2 linked regions of the Homo sapiens genome follow. The gene in region 1 interacts genetically with each later gene. Each region holds a gene or a part of one and is shown on either strand. Other genes may lie near its edges. The genes, in order: PIK3R5 and GNB1.

Evidence for each region.
Region 2: of PIK3R5 (region 1) and GNB1, changing one enhances a phenotype caused by changing the other (phenotypic enhancement), as found in Homo sapiens cells (one study listed by BioGRID).

What each region holds. Positions count from the first base shown.
Region 1 is NC_000017.11:8,888,977-8,892,788, reverse strand, and holds part of PIK3R5 (phosphoinositide 3-kinase regulatory subunit 5), read left to right. Parts: intron 1-834; exon of another isoform or gene 835-1,001; intron 1,002-1,876; coding exon 1,877-2,051; intron 2,052-2,662; coding exon 2,663-2,816; intron 2,817-3,566; coding exon 3,567-3,650; intron 3,651-3,812. UniProt on the Homo sapiens protein: Regulatory subunit of the PI3K gamma complex. Required for recruitment of the catalytic subunit to the plasma membrane via interaction with beta-gamma G protein dimers. Required for G protein-mediated activation of PIK3CG.
Region 2 is NC_000001.11:1,789,776-1,793,587, reverse strand, and holds part of GNB1 (guanine nucleotide-binding protein G(I)/G(S)/G(T) subunit beta-1), read left to right. Parts: intron 1-276; coding exon 277-343; intron 344-2,991; coding exon 2,992-3,193; intron 3,194-3,812. UniProt on the Homo sapiens protein: Guanine nucleotide-binding proteins (G proteins) are involved as a modulator or transducer in various transmembrane signaling systems.

The sequences.
Region 1 (3,812 bases):
CTCCTCATTCCCAGCCCCAGGGGTTCACTTCCCACTCACTCCCCTGAGCAACACTTCTTGACTTCCCTCTAGGTGAAAACAAACACAAACAAAATGATAGATGTTGAGACAGAGGGAAAGGATGCTAAAATGTTGTAGTTTAGTAAGTAAATAAGATTCCTCTGGGGGAGCTGGGGCAGGTGGGCTGATGAAGAATCATCAAAGCCCTTTAGACCTTTATTCGGACTCCAGGCACCATCCTAAGCATGGTTACATGTGCTGACTCATTTAATCCTCACGTTAACCCCGTGAGAAAGGGATTTTTCACATAAGGGAAGTGAGGCACCGAGAGATTTGTAGAAAGAGCTTACAGTTGGGAGATGGTCTCACTTTCATTATCTGTAAATTGAGAATGATGATAAATTCTTCGGGAGAGAAATTATGCAAGCTGGTGAGGGCAGGGGCTCGGCTGGGCTCGTTACAAGGTTGTAAGGGGCTGCTTATACAAGCCCACCTCCTTTTTCTTACAGATAGAGAAATCAAAGTGAGTTTCTTCCCAAATGATGGGGACTTTGACAGAGACTAGTCCTGTCTCTGCCCTGTCCCCGGGCACCGACGTCCCCAGAGTGTGGAGGGAATGCTGCCCTGCGTGGTGCTCCTTTGCACTGGGTTTAAACGCAGTGTGGAATTGAGAGAGCAAGAGCTCTCATCACATGCAGCTCATACTAAAGCATTTATGGATACAAAGCCGCCATGGCTCGAATTTGCTTCGAGGTCATGCAGTGATGGAGGGGTTGGCATGGGGGAAGTGAGAACAGCCGTGCGTTGTTAACTGTAAACAGAGTGATCAGCGCCTCAGAGCCCACGATTCTTTTAATTTGGGGTATGTTTGAAAGTTTCCATAGTAGCCGGGCGCGGTGGCTCACGCCTGTGATCCCAGCACTTTGGGAGGCCGACGCGGGTGGATCACGAGGTGAGGAGTTCAAGACCAGCCTGGCTAACACATTGAAACCCTGTCTCTACTAAAAATACAAAAAAAAAAAAAGTTAGCTGGGCGTGGTGGCGGGTGCCTGTAGTCCCAGCTATTTGGGAGGCTGAGGCAGGAGAATGGTGTGAACCCGGGAGGCGGGGCTTGCAGTGAGCTGAGATCGTGCCACTGCACTCCAGCCTGGGTGACAAGAACAAGACTCCGTCTCAAAAAAAAAAAAAAAAGAGAAAGGTTCCATAATAAAGAAATGTAAACACTGGCACCAAGAGGGAATCTGGGTATCCATCGGGAAGGGAGGTAGCAGTGGCCAGGCACACAGTCCCCTCCCAGCCAGTGAAAGCCTGTATCATGGCTTTGGGCTGATTAGAAAAGGTGTCCCTCATAAGCTCAGGAAGAAGATGCACTCTGACTTGGCATCCCCTCCTCCGGGCAGATGCAGCCCCACGGCACGAGGAATTTCATGTCCCGCTCGCCCCAGACCACACTGCACAGCACCACGTTGCTGTCCAGCTCCCCCTGAAAACTGATCGCTTGGCTTCAAGTCACCTTGCCTAAAATATGATCCTCATTTGAGTAATCTTGCATCCACTCAGCTGTCTCATAGGAAAAAACGTTTATATAAAAATTAAGTAAATTTAGTTTTAAAGAATTAAGTTCAATTTTGAAAAGATCTTTGAAAACAACAGCTGAAAAATGCTCAGCAGTGAACCCCACGCTTTCCCCTGGAAACCTGGACCCTGGAGCTGTTGCTTCTGTCCTGGCCTCCTGTGGTCACCTCCTCGAGCTCTGCCTGGGCTTGAGGAGGCCCTGGTCTCAGTGGAGCTGAGCACCAGCAGGCACGAGGGGGGTGGCTGCACTGTGGCATGCTGCGCACCCCTGGGTGCCATAGCCGGTCCCCTGTGTCCCCAGCACCGTGCTGCTGCTGAACCCAGTGGAAGTGCAGGCCGAGTTCCTTGCTGTAGCCAATAAGCTGAGTACGCCCGGACACTCGCCTCACAGTGCCTACACCACCCTGCTCCTGCACGCCTTCCAGGCCACCTTTGGGGCCCACTGTGACGTCCCGGGCCTGCACTGCAGGCTACAGGTATGTACCTGGGGCCTGGGGCTCTGGTGGAGCACCTCTCTGAGGAGGTAGCACCCTCTCCCTGCTTCATCTCAGCCACGGTCTCCAGGGTACACTTAGTCTCCTGCACCCAGGTGACATGGCAGGGTGGTGGCTGGAGGGCTGACCTCATAGAGGGTGTTTCTGGTGTGCTGGATCCTAACCAGCTGGGTGGCAGCCTGGGCAGTAGGACTGGGTGCTGATAACTGGTGCCTCAGAAGATGGCATATGCCATAAGAACGAGAATGAGCTTTGGGCTGAAGACCTGGCATCTAGGCCTGGCTCTGTCACAGGTGTCACAGGTCGGCTGTGTCACCCCACACAGCTCCTTCCCCTCTATGGGGTACAGTGAGGAGCGCTGAAGTCCCTCCTAACTGCAGTGCCGTGGCTCTGGATCTTTCTCTCCTGACCATTTCCTGAGAATGGAAGGGCAGGGAGAGGCCTGGCTGCCTGGCCAGCTGTGGGTAGGAGATGGGTGATGAGGCTGGGAGGGGACAGATCACTGCCTCCCTCAGTAAGAAGCTAGCAACTGGAACAGGTGGACAGCTAGCTCACGGTCCAGGAGCAAAGCCCATCTCCTCCTGGGGTTTCAGGCCAAGACCCTGGCAGAGCTTGAGGACATCTTCACGGAGACCGCAGAGGCACAGGAGCTGGCATCTGGCATCGGGGATGCTGCAGAGGCCCGGCGGTGGCTCAGGACCAAGCTGCAGGCGGTGGGAGAAAAAGCTGGCTTCCCTGGGGTGTTAGGTGAGGCTCTTGGGAGAATGGGGTTCTCCCACATTCCCCATGGCCTATTCTAGGTCCCAAGGTGCACGGTCCAGGCGGGCCTGGTGGCTCTGCTCCACACAGTCACTCAGGGACTCAGCTTCTTCAGCATCTCACTGCTCTGCCATCCCCTAGGGTGTCTCATTCCTGTCTATAGGGGCAGGGTGGGGGTGCTATCATGATGGCAGCTTGTGGGAAGAGGAAAAGAGAGTGCTTACGAGGGCAAAGGCTGGGCTTTTCTGTTGAAGGTGATGCAGAAGCTGGGCACATCACTTCCGCTCATGTTCCTTTGAGCCCGCCTTGGTCACGTGGCCACATCTTGCCCCAAAGGAGCCTGGGAAACATCGTCTCTATGACTCCAGTACCATAGAAGGGAGCACAGACTTTGAGGAACCATTAGCATTCCCTGTTACAATATTCCTCATAAAAACCTTCTGGGCTAGTACTATTATTCTCCCATGGGCACATTGTAAAATGAGGCTCAGAGGTTGTGGTTTGGCCACATTCGCACAGCTCATAAAGGGCATGCCATCTACATGGTGTGCTTGAAAGAAGGGCCTCTGGCTTGGAGCCTGGCACCCTGGCTGTAACTCAGCCTCAGCCTATCCAGCTACATATCCTTGTGCCGATCCTGTCCCATCTCTGGTCTCTTCTCCAAGGCAAGGGGACTGGACTGGCCAATCTCCAAGGCCTCTTCCCAGCCCTCTTCTCCTATCCTCCCTGTTCTTACAGACACTGCAAAACCAGGGAAGCTCCACACCATCCCCATCCCTGTCGCCAGGTGCTACACCTACAGCTGGAGCCAGGACAGCTTTGGTAAGGAGCCGGGGCCCTGGTGACACCCATGCCCCACACTGCCTGAGCTGTGTTTCTGGTCCTGGGTCCATGCAGCTCCCACCCCGTCCCCAAAGCTCTCCCACATGAGCAGGCTCTAAGCAGAGCAAGGGGGCAGTGCTAGGAGTCCTGGGCTGGCCCTGA
Region 2 (3,812 bases), on another chromosome or scaffold:
GTGTATGTTTCATGGGTGTGGTTTCTGCTTCTGCCCCCATCACGGAGCTGTGGGTCTCTGTGGGACGTGCTGTCCTGCCTGGCCAGGCTCTCACCCTCACCAGCAGTGCGTGTGGACCTTCTGCTGTGTGCACAGATGGGAATAAAAGGTCACTAGCATGGTGCTGGTCTTACCTTAGACGTAGAGCTTCCACCGGGCCAATGTGTTTCTCTATGTATGAGGCTGGGTGCAAGGCCTGCTGGATTCAGCTCATCACTTAGGCCTGTTCTTTGCCAGGTTACCTGTCCTGCTGCCGATTCCTGGATGACAATCAGATCGTCACCAGCTCTGGAGACACCACGTGGTAAGTACCTGACCCGGGGCAGGCAGTGCCTTGAGAACCCACAGCCCCTGGCACATTCCTCTGTGAACATGGAGGAAATAAGGTTCTTGACATAATATTAGGCCATCTGTAATTTAAGTGGCCTTAAGATTTAAAACACATAGTAGCAATGTGTGAATTCATTATACTTTTTTTTTTTTTGAGATGGAGTTTTGTTCTTGTCACCCAGGCTGGAGTACAATGGCTCAATCTTGGCTCTGCGACATCTGCCTGCCGGGTTTAAATGATTCTCCTGCCTCATCCTCCTGAATAGCTGGGATTACAGGTGCCCGCCACCACGCCTGACTAATTTTTGTATTTTTAGTAGAGACCAGGTTTCACCACATTGGCCAGGCTGGTCCTGAACTCCTGACCTCAGGTGACCTGCCCACCTCGGCCTCCCAAAGTGCTGGGATTACAGGCGTGAGCCTCCGTGCCTAGCCTCATTATACTTCTAATAAATTTACAAAGTTTAATTTTCAGCAGCTGAGAACTAAAATACACATTTTTTTCTTTTTTTTTTTTTTTTTGAGATAGAGTCTCTCTCTGTCTCCAGGCTAGAGTGGAGTGGCGTGATCTCGGCTCATTGCAACCTCTGCCTCCCAGATTCAAGCAATTCTCCCCTCTCAGCCTCCCGAGTAGCTGGGAACTACAGGTGTGCGCCACCACACCCAGCTAATTTTTGTATTTTCAGTAGAGACGGGATTTCACCACGTTGGCCAGGATGGTCTCTTATCCGTTGACCTCGTGATCTGCCTGCGTCAGCCTCTGAAAGTGCTGGGATTACAGGTGTGAGCCCCCATGCCTGGCCAACATAGATATTTTAACTACAATCAGGCTCAAAGTACCTGCTCTTCTTTTTTTTCCCCTCTATATATTTGTACCTCCTTAGGTGATGATAGGTGGGAGTAGGGTGGGTTTTGATTGTCCCTTTCTGATAGCATCATGTCATTGTGAACAATGAGCACAGACTAAAAATAACAGACGTCACAATTCAAGTGATTCCATCAGACTTCATTTTTAGTGTTTTCACCTTACAGGTAAACGGAAGCCCACTTAAATGCTAGAATTTTTTCATTTGTGGCATCAAAGTACTAAATTAAATGTCCAGATAGTTATTTTATGAGAGTCATTTTAGACTTCAGCTGGCCATGTGGGTTTTTCTGGTCTTCTGAGGCATGATTTGGTGGCAGGAGCTGTGCCCAGCCCAGGGCACAGACCCCTAGTCACGCAGTTGGTGGGGTTCACCGAGACATGGGCCCTTAACCAACTTGTCAGCAAAGCATCTGTGGTATTATAAGGTGTCCTCGTTGTATAAATTTCATAGATTTACAAAAGATTTGTCACCTAGATTGTCAATCTTGAGAAGACTTTATTTATTAGAAGATATTTTTAAAGTGCTTCTGTTCATTAATCATTTTTTTCAGACTCTTTTACGTATCTTGCTTCCCTTCTGCAGTCAGTCCCTCAGGCCCTAGAGAGGAGGCTCCCTGTGCAGTGTCTGTTGAGATTGGCTGATTGGATTTGCATTGCCAGGCCCAGCCAGGCTTTCCTCTGAGGCTGACATGAACGGACAGTGCTCTCTGGTGTTGCCTTCCATGGGTCGAGGCACAGGAGAATAGTATGTTGGTGGGCGTGTGGCCCTCACAGCTGTCCTTACACCTGAGCCAGGCTTCTGCTCTGTGCAGGGCTCTGTCAGCGTCTCACCTTTTGACAGCTTGTTAAGCAGAAATGTGATAGAATACCAGGTATGGCCGGGCGCGGTGGCTCATGCCTGTAATCCCAGCACTTTGGGAGGCCGAGGCGGGCGGATCACCTGAGGTCAGGAGTTCGAGACCAGTCTGACCAATATGGAGAAACCCCGTCTCTACTAAAAATACAAACAAAATTAGCCGGGCATGGTGGCGCATGCCTGTAATCCCAGCTACTGGAGAGGCTGAGGCAGGAGAATCGCTTGAACTCGGGAGGCGGAGGTTGTGGTGAGCCAAGATCGCGCCATTGCACTCCAGCCTGGGCAACAAGAGTGAAATTCGGTCTCAAAAAAAAAAAAAAAATACCAGGTGTGATCACTGAGAACTCAGCTGCTCTCCTGTTTGTGATTCCAGGAAAGGGCAGGAGGACCTCAGAATTGCTGTGAGCCATTTGTTTACCTGGCATTGGCCTTCTCCTGCCTGCCTTTTCTGAGACCCTGTGGAGGGGAGGCCAAGGGAGGGCACAGAGGGAGCAGCCACAGATAGAGTCGCGTCCCCTCCGCCATCCAGGGCCTCCACGTAGCTTCCTGCCACCCCTTCCATGCCCATCCATGACCAAAGAGGGGGCACAGCCTCAGTGGTGCTGCTTGAAAAGTGCCCCCAGCTCCCTGTTTGCTGGCATTTGAGTTGAGGTAGCGATCCCGTCATTCTGAAGCCCAGGCCCTGTGCTCATCTCTGTATAATTTTGCTTGCTTTGCTTTGTTTCCCTTCCAAAGTTGTATTACATTTAAATTTGTCTTTAAACAATTTACGTTTTTAAAGTAACAGTGCAGAGGCTCACTGTGGCCCTGGGTGGTTTGAAGGACAGATTGTCTGTCACATGACTAGCCACCCAAGAAGTTAAGGCTGATGTCCCCTTGTCATTCGCTCCTGCTCCAGTGCCCTGTGGGACATCGAGACCGGCCAGCAGACGACCACGTTTACCGGACACACTGGAGATGTCATGAGCCTTTCTCTTGCTCCTGACACCAGACTGTTCGTCTCTGGTGCTTGTGATGCTTCAGCCAAACTCTGGGATGTGCGAGAAGGCATGTGCCGGCAGACCTTCACTGGCCACGAGTCTGACATCAATGCCATTTGCGTGAGTCTGGGTGGAGGTGTGGGGTCGGGTCCTCTGCCGTCTCTGCTAGCCGTTCAGATTGCTAAATTTTAAACTTTTCTGGATTAGATGTTCTCCTTTCTGATCCTTATACAACCTCATGTACAGATGGGGATACAGAAAACTCCCGATGGGAAACTTCTCTGTGTTGACCACTTGTCTCACAGATACTCACAGGGTGTTGTATGCCAGTCCCCGTTCCCACCTCTACAGCTGAGCAGTGGTTGGGATCCTGGAGGGGAAAGACAGTAAGATAACTCAGGCCACCAGTGGTTACAGAGCCTTACTGGTCAGGGGCACAGCTAACCAGGGAACCTGCCCTCCTCTTTAGCACGCGGATGGCTAGGCAGTGTTTCCAGCCCCTGGCCTTGTGAGGAGACTTAGAAGGATGTATCTGTTGGTTGGACAGAGCTCTGCTGCAGTCCTGACCACAGCCTTGGTCAGCCCGCTTCCCTCCTTCCTCCATGAGATTAGCCCTGATGGCTGGCAGCTACAGCAACATGCACACCTGTCAGTGATGACTACTTTCTCACTATCCTTTGGAATAAATTCTACTCTTTGGGGACAGTAATCACAGTGTCCAAGATCACAGTGTTTGTGT